Linked DNA regions of Homo sapiens. The protein of the gene in region 4 purifies or fractionates together with the protein of the main gene of each other region. This does not show direct contact. Each region holds a gene or a part of one and is shown on either strand. Other genes may lie near its edges.

Region 1 (3,500 bases), about 99 Mb from region 4:
GTTCTCCAAAAAACCTATTGAAATTAAAAATTAAAGACAAAGAGTTTTTTTTTAATGTATGCTGATAATTCTGAAGACATTTATCCTTTATTTTAGCAACAATAGAAATTTGCTATGGATTTGGTGATGGGGGCAGAGGGCTTGGAACATATGAAGAGATTGAAAGCTATTGAGGTTGTTTAAATTCAGAACAAAAAGGAACATGTGACAAGTGAAATTGAAGGAACAGAAAAAAAGTATTCTTGTCATCCCTTGTGGTAAGATTCTTACTTGGCTACTTCAAGAGGTGATATCAAAAGCACATGATATGAGAATAGTAATGGTGGCAGGAAATGGGGGAAAAAACTTTCTCTGGAAGGAGCAAAGTAAGGGAAGGAGAAAGAACAGAAAGAGAATTACGTATCAGAGTTTTCTTCTCCTTCCTAAGGTATATTGTCTAAACAGTAAAAACAAAAATTTAGTACATGAAGCTGCCACAGTTTAGTCATAATTAGAGAATATAAGGTAGTTATTCAAGTTCTTCATAAATATTCCAGATTTCCTGAATAGATGGTAGGATTGCCCTTCCCAGCTCCATCCAAAGTCAAGAATGACCATGTTACTTGGTCAATAAAATATGACCAGAAATGTCAGTGTTCAATTTCTGTATCTTTTGCCCTGCTGTGATGATCATGATGGCATGTGTCCATCAGCCTGGGTCCCTGGGTGACTATGAAGAACAGTCATAGTCTGGCAGCCTGCTGCCAACTCGCATTGAACTATATAACATTAGCAAGAACAACTTTTCCTGAGTTAAGCCACTGAGATTTTGGGGGGTTGTTAACTGCAGCATAACCTAGCTTGACTAAAACAGAAATTGGTAACTAGAAGTAGGGTACGGCTATAACAAAATCCTAATTGAGAAGGAGATTATGAACATGTAGCTCTTAGGGTAAGCAATTTAGAAGACATGATGTTAGTATTGTGCTTTGATAACTGTTGGCATTGTCTAAAGCAAGTTATTTTAAGACAGGTGTATGTAGGAGAGAATTAGTAGTTTGCAGGCAGGAATGAAAGGGAATAGATTCCTTGCATACAGGGACTCACAGGGTTGAAGGAACAACTGTTTCAACCCTAAACTATAAAAGGTAATATTGATGAATGGTTTGAACAACGACAAACAGTGAAAACTCGACCTCGCAGCAAGAATGAACTCTTTGGTTAAAACCCGAGTGTATTAAGATGTCTCAAAGCTAGAGTTCAACTAAGGATGTAACACCTAGTAAATCCTTGCACTTCAACAAAATGGCTTGTAGAAAAATGTCCAAAATGCATGGCTCTTCCATCAGTGCCTGATAAACTCAAGCCACTTGCAATCAAATAGACAGAAATATAAGGATAAAACCACAAAGAATTATAGCAAATCTTAGTAGTATATCTATAGAAAAGAACTGTAGTATGGCTATTGGTACATGAAACCAAAAGAAATCAAACAGAAGCAGAATAAATTAATCTTACAGCCAAAGAAATCACGAGCCAGAACTAAAACCATTCAACTGAGATAAAACCACCCTTGGGCCTCCAATCTTCTGTAAGTAGCAAGCTTAGAAAGCTGCTCGGTTGCCAAGGAAGGATTATTCTCCAATGCCTACTCCAAACACTGCCAAGGAAGGATGGGCCTTGGGAGTAACCAAGAGCCCCAGAAAATGAACGAGAGTTCCTCCAGGGAAGAGTCCCATGAGTATGTTGGGGGCCCTTACAACGTCTGCCCATGAAGGTCTCAGAATTGCTACAGGCCAATAACTGTTTTTTTCTCCCTTTATGAATAGAAATTTCAGTCCCTGCTTCAGCACTGTAAACTGGGGAGGGAGGGGGAAAAAATAAAACCTCTGTATTTTTGGTTTTAAGTCTCAAGATCACAAGAAGCTACATCTGGACCCAATATAACAAGTACTACACATAGCCCAGAAATCCTAGGCTTTGAGTTTGATTACACTGAATGGGACATTTTAGGATGCCTCCTTTGAGACAGAAACAAGTATTCTGCCTATGAGAGGGAGGGCAAGTTGAATGATATAGTTCTTAGCGCTGTTAACATGTTTCTTTTTGCCTTCCAGCACAGAAAAGTTAAGACTCTTCAGTGGGACCTGCTCTGGCCAGTGAAATGGAAAAGAAAGTGACATGTATCACCTCTAGTGGAAACTCTAAGAGCCAGTGCACCATTTACCGAATTTTATTTCCTGCCTTGGCAATTGTGGATGAATTTCCATCAGCCTAAGTACCTGAGCAAGCCCTTCTACAGACCTCTACTAGACATGTAGCATAAAGGAGAAGCAAACTTTTGTTATATTGAGTGAGATGTATCATCCATTCTAATAAAAAAATCATAATAAAACCTTCTAAAAGATCATTACTGCCTATGTTAGAATATCTCTAAATATATTAGTTCCAGAACACGAGTTAATTTCTGTCTCAATTTCATCTTCAAAATGAGAATGATACTAAGCCTCACAGGGTTGTTCTGATTTAAATACATTTATATGTATAGCTCTTAACAGTGCCCTAGTACATAGTAGGAGCTATAACTCTTTGCTATTATTAAATACCTACCAAGTTTGCTGTAGATGCAGTTGTGCTATAAACACCTGAAGTTTCATAGTCTGGCTCTAGAGAATATAGCCAAAGTAAAAAATGAGCATTATTTTATAGCTTGAAATTCTATAAACAATGATGAATGCCAGATCACTTCTAGATCTTACTGACCTGCACGATAAAGATATTCTTCATGATATCGCCCTGGGGAAAAAAGACAAGACAGAAGAAATGTGTTTATATAGGTCTTTTTAGCTCAGCAGAGCCAAATGGCCAGCACTTGCTTTTTCCACCAGTTTTATGGTTATATGTTCAAAACTAAAATGCATACATCCTGAAAAGTGATATGAGCTTTCACACTAGTCAACAGATATTGAAGCCACAGACTAGCTGTAAGCTGTACAAATTTCTCCTCTGAAAATCCACTTAGCTCTTAGAGGTCAGGCAGAAGTGAAAACTCAGTTGTGTCCAATTTTTCCAGTGAGGCTACAGTGTGGTGATTAAGCACATAGGCTCTGGAGTGAGGACTGCCTAGATTTGAATTCTGATTAACTACATGACTTTAGGCAAGTTATTTAATCTCTGTGCCTCAATTCTTCACTGTAAAATGGAGTAACAGTACCTAGCTCATAGGCCTTTTGAGGATGGTTAATGGAAGTGAAAGTAACTTAGCATAGTGCTTTACACATACTAAATACTCAATGGTGTCTATAAAGTATGAGTATAATCCACTGTTTCCTTAGGTGGACATTAAGGGAACATGTATGCCTCATCTGTTTTTCAATCTGTTTCATGTAAGTAATACATGTAAAATGAGTGTGTCCTCAAAGGATGGCTCAGTAGACTGAAGTACTTTTAAGATTTCTGTACCACTGAAATGCAGAGAAAGTCAATACTCAATCGGACAGTTTTCCACCAAATATAAACCC
Region 2 (4,202 bases), on a different chromosome or scaffold from region 4:
CATTCGCATGAATTTGAAAGGTAAATAAAACATCAGACTTCAAAGAAATTCCATTAGAATCGGGGGTTACTTTTTTGTTTTCTTTTCCTCCACCTCCACCTTAAGGAACATGAACGGCATTTGGCCACAGTTTATGTCTTTCCAATTTTATCTTCCACCATCTACCGCTCAGTTCTCCTCACTTCCAGCCAAACAATGTATGTTCCCCAAACACGCCTTCACAATTTCGTTCTAGTTGGTGTCTACCTCTAGTATATGTGTAGTCAATTTATACACACATTCCCCACGATCTTGAAACGTCTTGACATCCACAAGCAAATCTAGGTTTCTAACATAACACTAACTTTGTAAGTCTGTCCATATAAGGTTTTAGCAAACCTAGTAAAACAGAAAACGCACTATTATCCAGGCTTATATTCTGAGATTTGAAAAACCCCTCTATCTGCTACCTTTGGGTTTCTGAATTTACATACCACTCTCAAGTATACAGTATTCACGATTTCTAAGAACTGGAGAGTAAACCTAGTCCTCTAACAATGGCATTTTATTTGTTGAGTTAGGGCACTACCTGCCCACGATGAGGATAGTTAATGAAACGCTGCCCGGTAACGACGATTAAAGGCTTTGATTGAAAACGTATTAGGCCTTAAGAATTTTGCGAACATCTAATTTAACCCTAGTAACTGTGGCGTGGGTTCTTTCAGAATTTACACGCACGTGGGAGACCGCGAAGCGCAGGCAGCGTTAAAACTAGGGCGCTGGAGTCACCCCCGTACCCCGAATGCCGTCGGCGCTCCAGGGCCCCCAGAGGGTGCGGGGGGCGGGGACGCTGTGACGTCACAGAGCGCCCTTCTGACGTTCTCACGGACCCGCTTTGCCTCGGGGGCCCACGCTGGAGCCCACCCAGTACTACTAAGAAATGAGGAGGAAAAAGGGGCGCCGGCTCTCGTAGCGCCTATTTTCTCGGCAGAGGGACCCACGTGCTCGCTTTGGTGGACTCTGCGCCCGGCGAGTACCGCCGGCCTGAAGCTTCCCGCCGCCGCGTCCACGCGACCCAGCCAGAGAGGGCTCAGTCAGCCGGCGCGGCACCTACAAGCTCAGTCGGGATCCTGGAGAGGCGGGAAGGCAGCGGGGCCCTTTCCACAGAGAGAACACAGCTCTTCGGGAGATTCCCCCGCTGCCCCCGAGCCCTGCTCTCCCGCCTCGGCCTCTGAGGACTACCCGCAGGGCGCAGGCAGCCGCGAAAGACTCAGCCTCCTTCCAACTTCGCGAGGGCCGAGGGGGCGGGCCCCGGGCGCGCGCGCGGCGAAGCCCCGCCCCTGCCCGCGCGGCCTGCTGGATTCGCCCCGCCCCTCGCTGTCGCCCGCCGCCCGCCACCCGCCACCGCTCTTCCTCCTGCGCCACAGTCCCGGCGGCGGCGCTGGTCGCGGGTCGCACCGTGAGGCTCGCGTGGGCGGCGATAGGCGCTGGGCCCGGGCCCGGTGAGGAGCGCGCCGCGCGTCCCCTTCTCCTCAGGAGTGGCGGGCCGCGGAAGTGACGTGGTGCACGGGCAGGAGCGCGTTTGAATCGGTTCCCGGGTGATCCTCGCGCCTGCCGCTGCTCGGCCGCCGCCGCTGACGAGGAGCTGCAGCGCGCCGGGCCGAGGCCTCGAGCCGCCCCGGGAGCTGGAGCTGAAGGCGCCGCGCGGAGCGCGCACCTCAGCCCTGAGCCCGGCGGCGGCAGGCGTCGCTGTCTTTTCTCCTTTTCCCCAATATGGCAGCGGCGGACGGCGGCGGGCCTGGTGGGGCCTCTGTGGGGACTGAGGAGGATGGCGGAGGCGTCGGCCACAGGACGGTGTACTTGTTTGATCGGCGCGAAAAGGAGTCCGAGCTCGGGGACCGGCCTCTGCAGGTCGGGGAGCGCTCGGACTACGCGGGATTTCGCGCGTGTGTGTGTCAGGTACGCGAAGGGGCGAGGAAGGGATGCGCGTGTAGACTTGGGGGCGGGAGGGTGATGAGAAACTCAACTTGCTCACTGAGGGCAATAAACCTGTCACCCGGTCCCGGTCCTGCGGCCTTGGCTTCCCTCTCCCGTGTGCCCGCCATGTCCGTGACCTGGTGGCCGGACGCCTCGGGCGGGCCCTGGCCCGGGCCTCGAAGTGCAGGGCCGGCTCCCCCGTGGCCCTCCCTCTGCCTCCGCTCCTTTTACGGGAGGCCTTGCCGGCCCGGGTGGAGAGCTCAGCGTTTGTTGGCCCTGGGCGAGCTTAGCCCGGTTGCGGCCCTGCAGTCTAGGGAAAGCCGTTGGTGGTGTCTGTTTTTACTTTGTAACTTTTTTAAAACGAGAGAAGGGAGTTAACGCCCAGGGGCTCTGTTGTGAGTGTTGCGACGGTGGGAAGTTGTGAAATGCCCGGAGTCATCTCCCCCAAGTTCATTAGATGATGCGGGGTGTCCCCGGGTTGCCCTGTCGAGGTTGCAGGTCCTTCTGGGGCGGGGCGGCGGGGGGGATCCTTCCGCACGGAGACACTTGTCCAGGTCAGCTCTGCAGGTAGAGCTGGCCTTCTGCCTGTCTGAGCCCTAACCCTTGGGAATTTCCAAACCAAGTCAAAGGTTGGTATGGGTGGCTGTGGAGCACCAGAAAACGTACCTACCCCGTGTATTGGTTCGCTTTGAAAATGAACGTGGAGGGAAATCCGCTTTAAACTGTGATGTACTTTATAGATATGAGGTGGTGGCATTGCCTGAGCTTTGAAGAAGGAATATTGTCATGCTCTGAATTAACCATATGAGGTCCCTTTTTAAGCTGTTAAGAACACTTAGCGTCCAAGGGAAAAAAAGAACTTTGAAGCCGTGTTTTGTCGTGAGGCTGATAGGTTTAGAAATGTTCTAGACCATATAACTGTATGGTTGCTGAAATAATTGAAATCGTGATCCGTAGAATGAAAACGATTGGAGAAGTAAGGACTTTCTTTTGTTCACAGCTGTAGTCCCAGCGTCTAGAACTGTGCCTGCGACATTGTAAATGCCCAGATTAGAATGGATAAATGAATGAAGACAAAAACCTATCCCCTCAAGTTAATTCTGTGCCTGAACGTAGTAGATTCCCGTTGTGTTTGAAAAGTGAATGAATGCTCATCTTTTTTGTTGAATGCTTTCTATTCAGAACCATTCTACAAAAGGGAAACTTTTTACGTTTATTGTGTTTATAGTAAAAATATCAGTACATTAAAGAAAATATGGAACCAGAGGGGGGAAACAAGTAAATCTTTTACTCGCTGTAAAACTACTATATGACTACTCTTAGCACCTGAGGTTATGTCTTTTCAGCCTTCCTCCTCCTTCCCACTCCATTTTTTAAATTACTAAAATATGTGTTTTATATTCTATTAATTTTTTCACTTAATAGTGTCAGAAGTTTCTTTAAACGTAGGTCTTCAAATCAAAATTTGAAATGGTCCATTTGCTACCACTATTTACATAACCGAATCTCTCCTTTCTGTTGACATTTACATTACTTTTAATTTTTTTGATTTTAAGTAATGCTGTAATAAACATTTTCCCAGGCCCAAATATTCCCGGGCTCAGGTGATCCTCCCACCTCAGCCTCCCAAGTAGCCAGGACTACAGGTGAGCGCCACCATGCCCAGCTATGTTTTTTTTTTTTCGTATTTTTCGTACATACGGGGGTTTGGCTGTGTTGCCCAGGCTAGTCTCGAGCTCCTGGGCTCAAGAGATCCACCCGCCTCCCAAAGTGCTGGGATTACTGGCGTGAGCCACTGCACCCAGTGGAAAAACATCTTTGAATACATAGCCGTTTATGTCTTTTATTATTGTTTGCTTAGTTTGAAATCTTAGAACTGGATCAAAGATGAGATACATCTTTAAAGCTCTTGTTTCGTATTTTAAAATTGCTTTTTGAAAATGTTTTGCTACTTTACCCTTCCTCTAGAAATGCACTATTTCCCTCTCGTGAGATGTCTCAGTAACTCTTAGATAAATAGAGGAAGTATTATTGGCCTTTTATTACAGAAGTATAAACACAGTCGTGGAAATGGTGACTCATTACTCAGATAGTAAAGCTCAAGTTAGTATTCAAACCCAGAACCTCTGTTCATTCTGTTATACTACTCAAATGGCATTCTTTGCTGTAGGGAACAGATGTATTTATTCCTTCCTTCAATATTTCAACTGGAAAACCAAGGAAAATATTTCTTTTAACTAATTCTG
Region 3 (3,500 bases), on a different chromosome or scaffold from region 4:
TGCAGGAGTATAGTGGCATGATCTTGGCTCACTGCAGCTTCCGCCTCCCGGGTTCAAGTGATTCTCCTGCCTCAGCCTCCCAAATAGCTGAGATTACAGGCGTGCCCACCACGCTCAGCTAATTTTTTGTATTTTTAGTAGATACGGGTTTCACCATGTTGGCCAGGCTGGTCTTGAACTTCTGACCTCAAGTGATCCACCAGTTTTGGCTTCCCAGAGGCTAGGATTGCAGGCATAAGCCACCGTGCCCAGCCTATATACTTTTTCTCAATTTTGTGTTTGTATGTATGCATGTATGTGTGTGTGTGTGTGTGTGTGTGTTTGTGTGTGTCTGTGTCTGTATGTATGTATGTATGTATGTATGTATGTATTGAGATGGAGTTTCGCTCTTGTCGCCCAGGCCCAGCCTATATACTTTTTCTCAACTCTTTTTACTTATTGATTGATTGATTGAGATGGAGTCTCGCTCTTGACCCCCAGGCTGGAGTGCAATGGTGCGATCTTGGCTGACTGCAACCTCTGCCTCCTGGGTTCAAGTGATTCTCCTGCCTCAGCCTCCCTTGTAGCTGGGATTACAGGCCCCTGCCACCATGCCCAGCTGATTTTTGTATTTAGTAGAGTCGGGGTTTCACCATGTTGGCCAGGCTGGTCTCGAACTCCTGACCTCAGGTGATCCATCTGCCTCGGCCTCCCTAAGTGCTGGGATTACAAATGTGAGCCATTGCCCCCAGCCTTCTTTTTTATTTAGATATTTATTTATGTTTTTTTTTTTTTTTAGAGACAGGTTCTCACTCTGTCATCCTGGCTGGAGTGCATGGGCACAATCATAGGTCACTGCAACCTCAAATTCCTGGGTGATCCTTCCACTTCAGCCTTCCAAGTAGCTTGGACTACAGGTGCATGCCACCAAGGCTAGCCGATTATTTTATTTTGTGTGAAGACAGGGTGTCATTTTGTTTCCCAGGCTGGTCTTGAAGTCCTGACCTCAAGCAGTCCTCTTGCCTCAGCTCGGCCTCCCAGAGTGTTGGGATTACAGGCGTGAGCCATGATGCCCAGCCTTTGGTTTCATTGTGTTTTTGTATTTTTCTTGAGACAAGGTCTTACTCTCCTGCCTAGGCTGGAGTACAGTGGTATAGTCATAGCTCACTGCAGCCTTGAACTCCTAGGCTCAAGCATTCTTCCAACGTCAGCCTCCCAAGGAGCTGGGATTATATGCATTAGCCACTGTGCTTGGCCATTAAATTTATTTATTTATTTATTTTATTTTATTTTTTTGAGACAGAATCTGTCTCTGTCACCCAGGCTGGAGTGCAGTGGCACAATTTTAGCTCACTGCAACCTCCACCTACCGGGTTCAAGCAATTTTCATGCCTTAGCCTCCTAAGTAGCTGGGACTACAGGCATGCGCCACCACACCTGGCTAATTTTTATATTTTTAGTAGAAACATAATTTCACCATGTTGGTCAGTCTGATCTTGAACTCCTGATCTCAGGTGATCTGCCCACCTCGGCCTCCCAAAGTGCTGGAATTATAGGCGTGAGCCTCTGTGCCTGGCAAAAAACTTTTTTTTTTTAGGGATGGGGTGTCCCTATATTGCCCAGGCTGGTCTTCAATTTTTGGCCTTAGGCAATTCTCCTGTCTCAGCCTCTAATTGGTACTGCCTGGTGTATTGGATTTAGGCCTTACTTATTAACCATAAACCACGGAAGCCGAAGATTTACCTCTCTCCTCACTCCCTTACTCCCACCACAAACATGCACATTTTCTGCTCTCCAAACTCCTCACTAGTAGTTATGGTAGAATTTTGGTTAGATTGTATTCAGGGTTTACATTGTAAGATTTTAAGGACTGTTGGCTGGGCGCGGTGGCTCACGCCTGTAATCCCAGCACTTTGGGAGGCCAAGGCAGGTGGATAACGAGGTCAGGAAATCGAGACCATCCTGGCTAACATGGTGAAACCCCAGCTCTACTAAAAATACAAAAAACTGGCTGGGCGTGGTGGCGGGCGCCTGTAGTCCCAGCTACTCGGGAGGCTGAGGCAGGAGAATGGTGTGAACCCGGGAGGTGGAGCTTGCAGTGAGCCGAGATCGCGCCACTGCACTCCAGTCTTGCCAGAGCAAGACTCCGTCTCAAAAAAAAAAAATAGATTTTAAGGACTGTATAAATGCTCTTCACAGCTCAGCTATGTTACTGTGTTACCTTGCCTTTCCTGCTGAACATTTTGTTTCCCAGATCATCTTCTTTCAGTGTGTTCAGGTATTCTAGATATTCTGTCACTTTCATCTTGAAGAAATTGCTCCCTGAGCCCTCTGACATTATTCCACTTTAAGCGTGTTGCTCTCCATGTTGCTGCACTGATGTCTTCTTGGGCTTTTTCTTCACCATCATCCCAGGAATTCCTTTTGCCTCATACTGTGTTAGATCCTCTTATTTCCTGAATTCCACATCTTTGCTTTTGCATTACTTTTTTTTTTTTTTTTTTTTTTTTTGAGACACAGAGTCTTGCTCTGTCCCCCAGGCTGGATCTCGGCTCACTGCAACCTGCAACCTTGGTCTTGGTCTTGAACTCCTGACCTCAGGGGATCCACCCACCTCAGCCTCCCAGAGTGCGGGGATTACAGGCGTGAGACACCACGCCTGGCCTTGTTTTTTGTTTTGTTTTGCTTTTTTTTGAGACCGAGTCTCGCTTTGTTGCCCAGGCTGGAGTCCAAAGGCGCGATGATCTTGGCTCACTGCAACGTCCGCCTCCCGGGTTCAAGCAATTCTCCTGCCTCAGCCTCCCGAGTAGCTGGGATTATAGGCACATGCCACTACGCCTGGCTAATTTTTTGTATTTTTAGTAGAGACAGGGTTTCACCATGTTAGCCAGGATGGTTTTGATCTCCTGACCTCTTGATCCACCCGTTTCGGTCTCCCAAAGTGCTGGGATTACAGGCGTGAGTATTACTTCTTTACTTTAGTGGAACACATTCTAGTAGCTTTTTTTTAAAAAAAATTTTTTTCTGAATTTTAAAAAATTGAGGTGGGGGGGTCTCAGTTTTTTGCCCAGGCTGGTCTCAGACTCCTGGGTTCAAGTGATCCTCCTGCTTCAGCATCCCAAAGTGCTGAGATTATAGGCATGAGCCACCCTGCATGGCCCCATTCCAGTAGCATCCTGAGGGAGAGTGCTTGGGAAGGGAATTTTCACATTTAAACCATCTCCGGGGCCGGGCGCAGTGGCTCACGCCTGTAATCCCAGCACTTTGGGAGGCTGAGGCGGGTGGATCACGAGGTCGGGAAATCGAGACCATCCTGGCTAATGTGGTGAAACCCCGTCTCTACTAAAAGTACAAAAAAATTAGCCGGGTGTGGTGGCGGGCGTCTGTAGTCCCAGGTACTCTGGAGGCTGAGGCAGGAGAATGGCGTGAACCTGGGAGGTGGAGCTTGCAGTGAGCCGAGATCTCGCCACTACACTCCAGCCTGGGTGACAGAGCGAGACTCCGTATTAAAAAAAAAAAAA
Region 4 (3,500 bases):
CAGCCTGGACAACATAGCAAGATCCCATCTCTTTAAAAAAAAAAATCACTAGCTCAGGAGGAGCTGAGCTGCCAACAGGAAGAGAAAGTGGGCAGGCCTCGCTTGCTGGTGAGCCTGGGGCATTTCAGATTTTCCTGTGAAGAGTGGATTTAAATGGTGAAACTTATTTCAAGACAATGCCACAGGTATAATGTAACATTAAGATTTTCCTTTTCCAGTTTTTAAAATAACAGTCATTATGCAATTTAGCTGAAAAAATGCTTTGGGGACCAATACACACATGGCCCAACTTAAGACGCAGTACATGGAGGATATAACCTCCACACACTAGTTTTAAAGTCCTAGTCCTACTCATTGTGTCATCCTCAGATGACGACCAGGAATGGAGCTCCTCGCGTGCTCTGATGAAGGACAGAGGGGACACTCTCTGGGGCTGAGAAGGCAGTGGGAAGGGCAGTTAGGTGCTCCAGGCTCCCCTCCCTATTTCTGAGGATTTTCACAACACAACCAGTGTTTCTTTTCTTTTCTTTTTTTTTTTTTTTTTTGAGACAGTTTCACTCTTGTTGACCAGGCTGGAGTGCAATGGCACAATCTCGGCTCACTGCAACCTCTGCCTCCTGGGTTCAAGTGATTCTCCTGCCTCGGCCTCCTGAGTAGCTGGGGTGATAGGCATGCACCACCACTCCTGGCTAATTTTGTATTTTTAGTAGAGACAGGGTTTCTCCATGTTGGCCAGGCTGGTCTCGAACTCCTGACCTCAGGTGATCCGCCCACCTCAGCTTCCCAAAGTGCTGGGATTACGGACATGAGCCACTGTGCCCAGCCAGTGTTTCTTTTCAATTGTGGTAAAATATACATAACACAGAATTTATCCTTGGAGCCATTTTAAAGTGTATTAATTCAATGGCATCAAGTACATTCACAACATTGCACAACTATTATCTCTGTCTAGTTCCAGAACATTTCATGATATCAAAAGGAAACCCCACACCCCTTAAGCAGGCACTCCCTATTCTCCCCTCCCCCCAGGCCCTGCCAAGCATGAATCTATTTTCTGTCTCTATTCTGAACTTTTTGTATAAATGGAATCATAAAATACGTGCATTTTTGTGTCTGGCCTCTTTCAATTAGCATAAACTGTTCATAGTCCATCCACACGGCTGCATAGATGAGTACTTCATCTCTCTTTAAGTCTGAATAACATTCCATTGGGTGGATACAGCGCATTGCGTTCATCCATTCATCTGTTCATGGCCACTCAGGTTGGTTCCACCTTTTGGCTATACTGAATACTGCCGCTATGAACACTGGTGTATAAGTATCTGTTTGAGTCCCTGTCTTCAAGTCTTTGGGGAATATACCTCAGAGTGGAATTGCTGGGTCATATGGTAACTCTGTATAACCTATTCGGCTAATATTTCCTTTTTTTTTTTTTTTTTTTTTATGAGGAACATCTTTTATTTCTTGTAAAGAGGGGAAAATAAGATTTTTTAATATTTCTCACTCATAAGATTTTTAAACTCTTAAAAATGCAATATCCTCTTTTCAAAGCACATGCCATCTTAAAAAAATCTTAGCAATGTACATTTGCACTCAAAGAAAAACATGGCAGCACCACTGTCTTCTGACAAAATTCTGCATAAAAAAACCCTATGCAACTTTTTGCAAATATGTTCCTTCTTTATTATTCAGGGACACCAAACCACAAACATTCAGTGCAATATTTATTGTTTTTTATTTCCGTAGGAAACACAGGACCAATGATGTCTTCTGACAACTGTTTCCTGATGATTTGTTGGGTTTATTGGATCTGAGGATCCTCGGATCCAATAAACCCAACAAATGAATTCCCAAACAATCTTAACAAAACTATAGAAGACCAAGAAAGCTTAAAAGAGACAAAGAATAAAGACAAGTCACCTAGTAAGGATGGCCAAGTCCTCAACTTCCCCAATGGAAGCCAGAAGTTATGGAGTCATATCTTCAATGTGATATGAGAAAATAACTCTCAGGCTAGGAGTCTATACTCAGCAAAACTGCCTTTCCAGAAGGAGAGCAAAATAAAGATAGTTTCAGCCAAACTATACAACCTGAGAATTTATTTCTAACATATAACCACTTAAAGAATGCAACTTAAGCAAAAGGAAAATCACCACAGATACATTGAGATGTGGTGAGGGGCAGGGGCAGAGAAAGGTAAGCAAAGATATTGATCAATATGTGGACAAATCTAAACAAATGTTGATTGTACAAAACCAAAATAATAATAATGTCTACTTTGTGGAGAAGGAAAAACTAAAGCATATAGTAGCTAAGCATGGTGGCTCACACCTATAATCCCAGCATTTTGGGAGGCCGAGGCAGGCAGATCACTTGAGCCCAGGAATTGGAGACCAGCCTGGGCAACATAGTAAAACCCCATCTCTACAAAAAATACAAAAATTAGCCAGGCATGGTGGCATGCGCCTTTAGTTCCAGCTACTTGGGAGGCTAAGGTGGCAGGATTACTTGAGCCTGGGAGATCGGGGGCTGCAGTGAGCTGTGATCGCGCCACTACACTCCAGCCTGGGCAACAGAGCAAGACTCTGTCTCAAAAACAAAAAAACCACATAGTAAGGTGGTGGTCATAAATCCAACTATGTCAATTATCATAAAAGAAAAGGGACCAAACTTTCCAGTTAAACACAGAGACTGTGAGATAAGAGAATAAGACATCAACGTCCTTGAAGCAAAGGGAATCATTACTATATTGAGGTCCATGTTTCTCCTACCCTTAGAACACTCATCCTACCCTTAAAACACTCATTCTTCAGGATGCAACCAAAACCACAGTAGCCCTAGCAGATACCCTTTGTTTGTAAACTTGTCTAGCTGTCAACAGTTTCCTTACTTAAAGATTTAATTAAAAAAATTAATTTAAAGGCCAACAAAAATTTTGCTCCATCATCACCTTAAAACACCTACAGTTCAGCCAGGCACGGTGGCTCACAGCTGTAATCCCAGCACTTTGGGAGGCCGAGGTGGGTGGATCACCTGAGGTTAGGAGTTCAAGATGAGCCTGGCCAACATGGTGAAACTCCATCTCTACAAAAATACAAAAAGTAGCCGGGCATGATGGTGGCTGCCTGTAACCCCAGCTACTTGGGAGGCTGAGGCGGGAGAATCGCTTGATCCCGGGAGGTGGAGGTTGCAGTGAGCCAAGATCACGCCATTGCACTCCAGCCTGGGCGACTGAGCGAGACTCCATCTCAAAAAACAAACAAACAAAAAAACACGTACAGTTCTATTATCTACATGCCAATGTCATAAAAGCCACTCAAACTCCAGGTAAGGAAAGCTACTTTCTGGGAACATGAGACAGGTTTTCCCAAGACACATGAACACCTCGCACAAAATGTCCACATACATTACCGTCTGCTTATTTGGTAACGACTAGGCAGATTTGGGCATGACAGGATACCAATCCACAGCCCAGCACTGGGAAGCACTGCCCTTTGTGG

The links. The genes of interacting proteins can lie anywhere in the genome.
Region 1: the proteins of PRPS2 (region 4) and ALG13 purify together in Homo sapiens (affinity purification with mass spectrometry; one large-scale study listed by BioGRID and IntAct). This does not show direct contact.
Region 2: the proteins of PRPS2 (region 4) and SMCHD1 purify together in Homo sapiens (affinity purification with mass spectrometry; one large-scale study listed by BioGRID and IntAct). This does not show direct contact.
Region 3: the proteins of PRPS2 (region 4) and YY1AP1 purify together in Homo sapiens (affinity purification with mass spectrometry; one large-scale study listed by BioGRID and IntAct). This does not show direct contact.

What each region holds. Positions count from the first base shown.
Region 1 is NC_000023.11:111,729,670-111,733,169, reverse strand, and holds part of ALG13 (UDP-N-acetylglucosamine transferase subunit ALG13), read right to left. Parts: intron 2,776-3,500; coding exon 2,743-2,775; intron 2,646-2,742; coding exon 2,590-2,645; intron 1-2,589. UniProt on the Homo sapiens protein: Catalytic subunit of the UDP-N-acetylglucosamine transferase complex that operates in the biosynthetic pathway of dolichol-linked oligosaccharides, the glycan precursors employed in protein asparagine (N)-glycosylation.
Region 2 is NC_000018.10:2,654,324-2,658,525, forward strand, and holds the start of SMCHD1 (structural maintenance of chromosomes flexible hinge domain-containing protein 1), read left to right. Parts: upstream 1-1,402; 5' UTR 1,403-1,752; coding exon 1,753-1,938; intron 1,939-4,202. UniProt on the Homo sapiens protein: Non-canonical member of the structural maintenance of chromosomes (SMC) protein family that plays a key role in epigenetic silencing by regulating chromatin architecture.
Region 3 is NC_000001.11:155,664,775-155,668,274, reverse strand, and holds part of YY1AP1 (YY1-associated protein 1), read left to right. Parts: intron 1-3,500. UniProt on the Homo sapiens protein: Associates with the INO80 chromatin remodeling complex, which is responsible for transcriptional regulation, DNA repair, and replication. Enhances transcription activation by YY1. Plays a role in cell cycle regulation.
Region 4 is NC_000023.11:12,815,412-12,818,911, reverse strand, and holds part of PRPS2 (ribose-phosphate pyrophosphokinase 2), read right to left. Parts: intron 1-3,500. UniProt on the Homo sapiens protein: Catalyzes the synthesis of phosphoribosylpyrophosphate (PRPP) that is essential for nucleotide synthesis.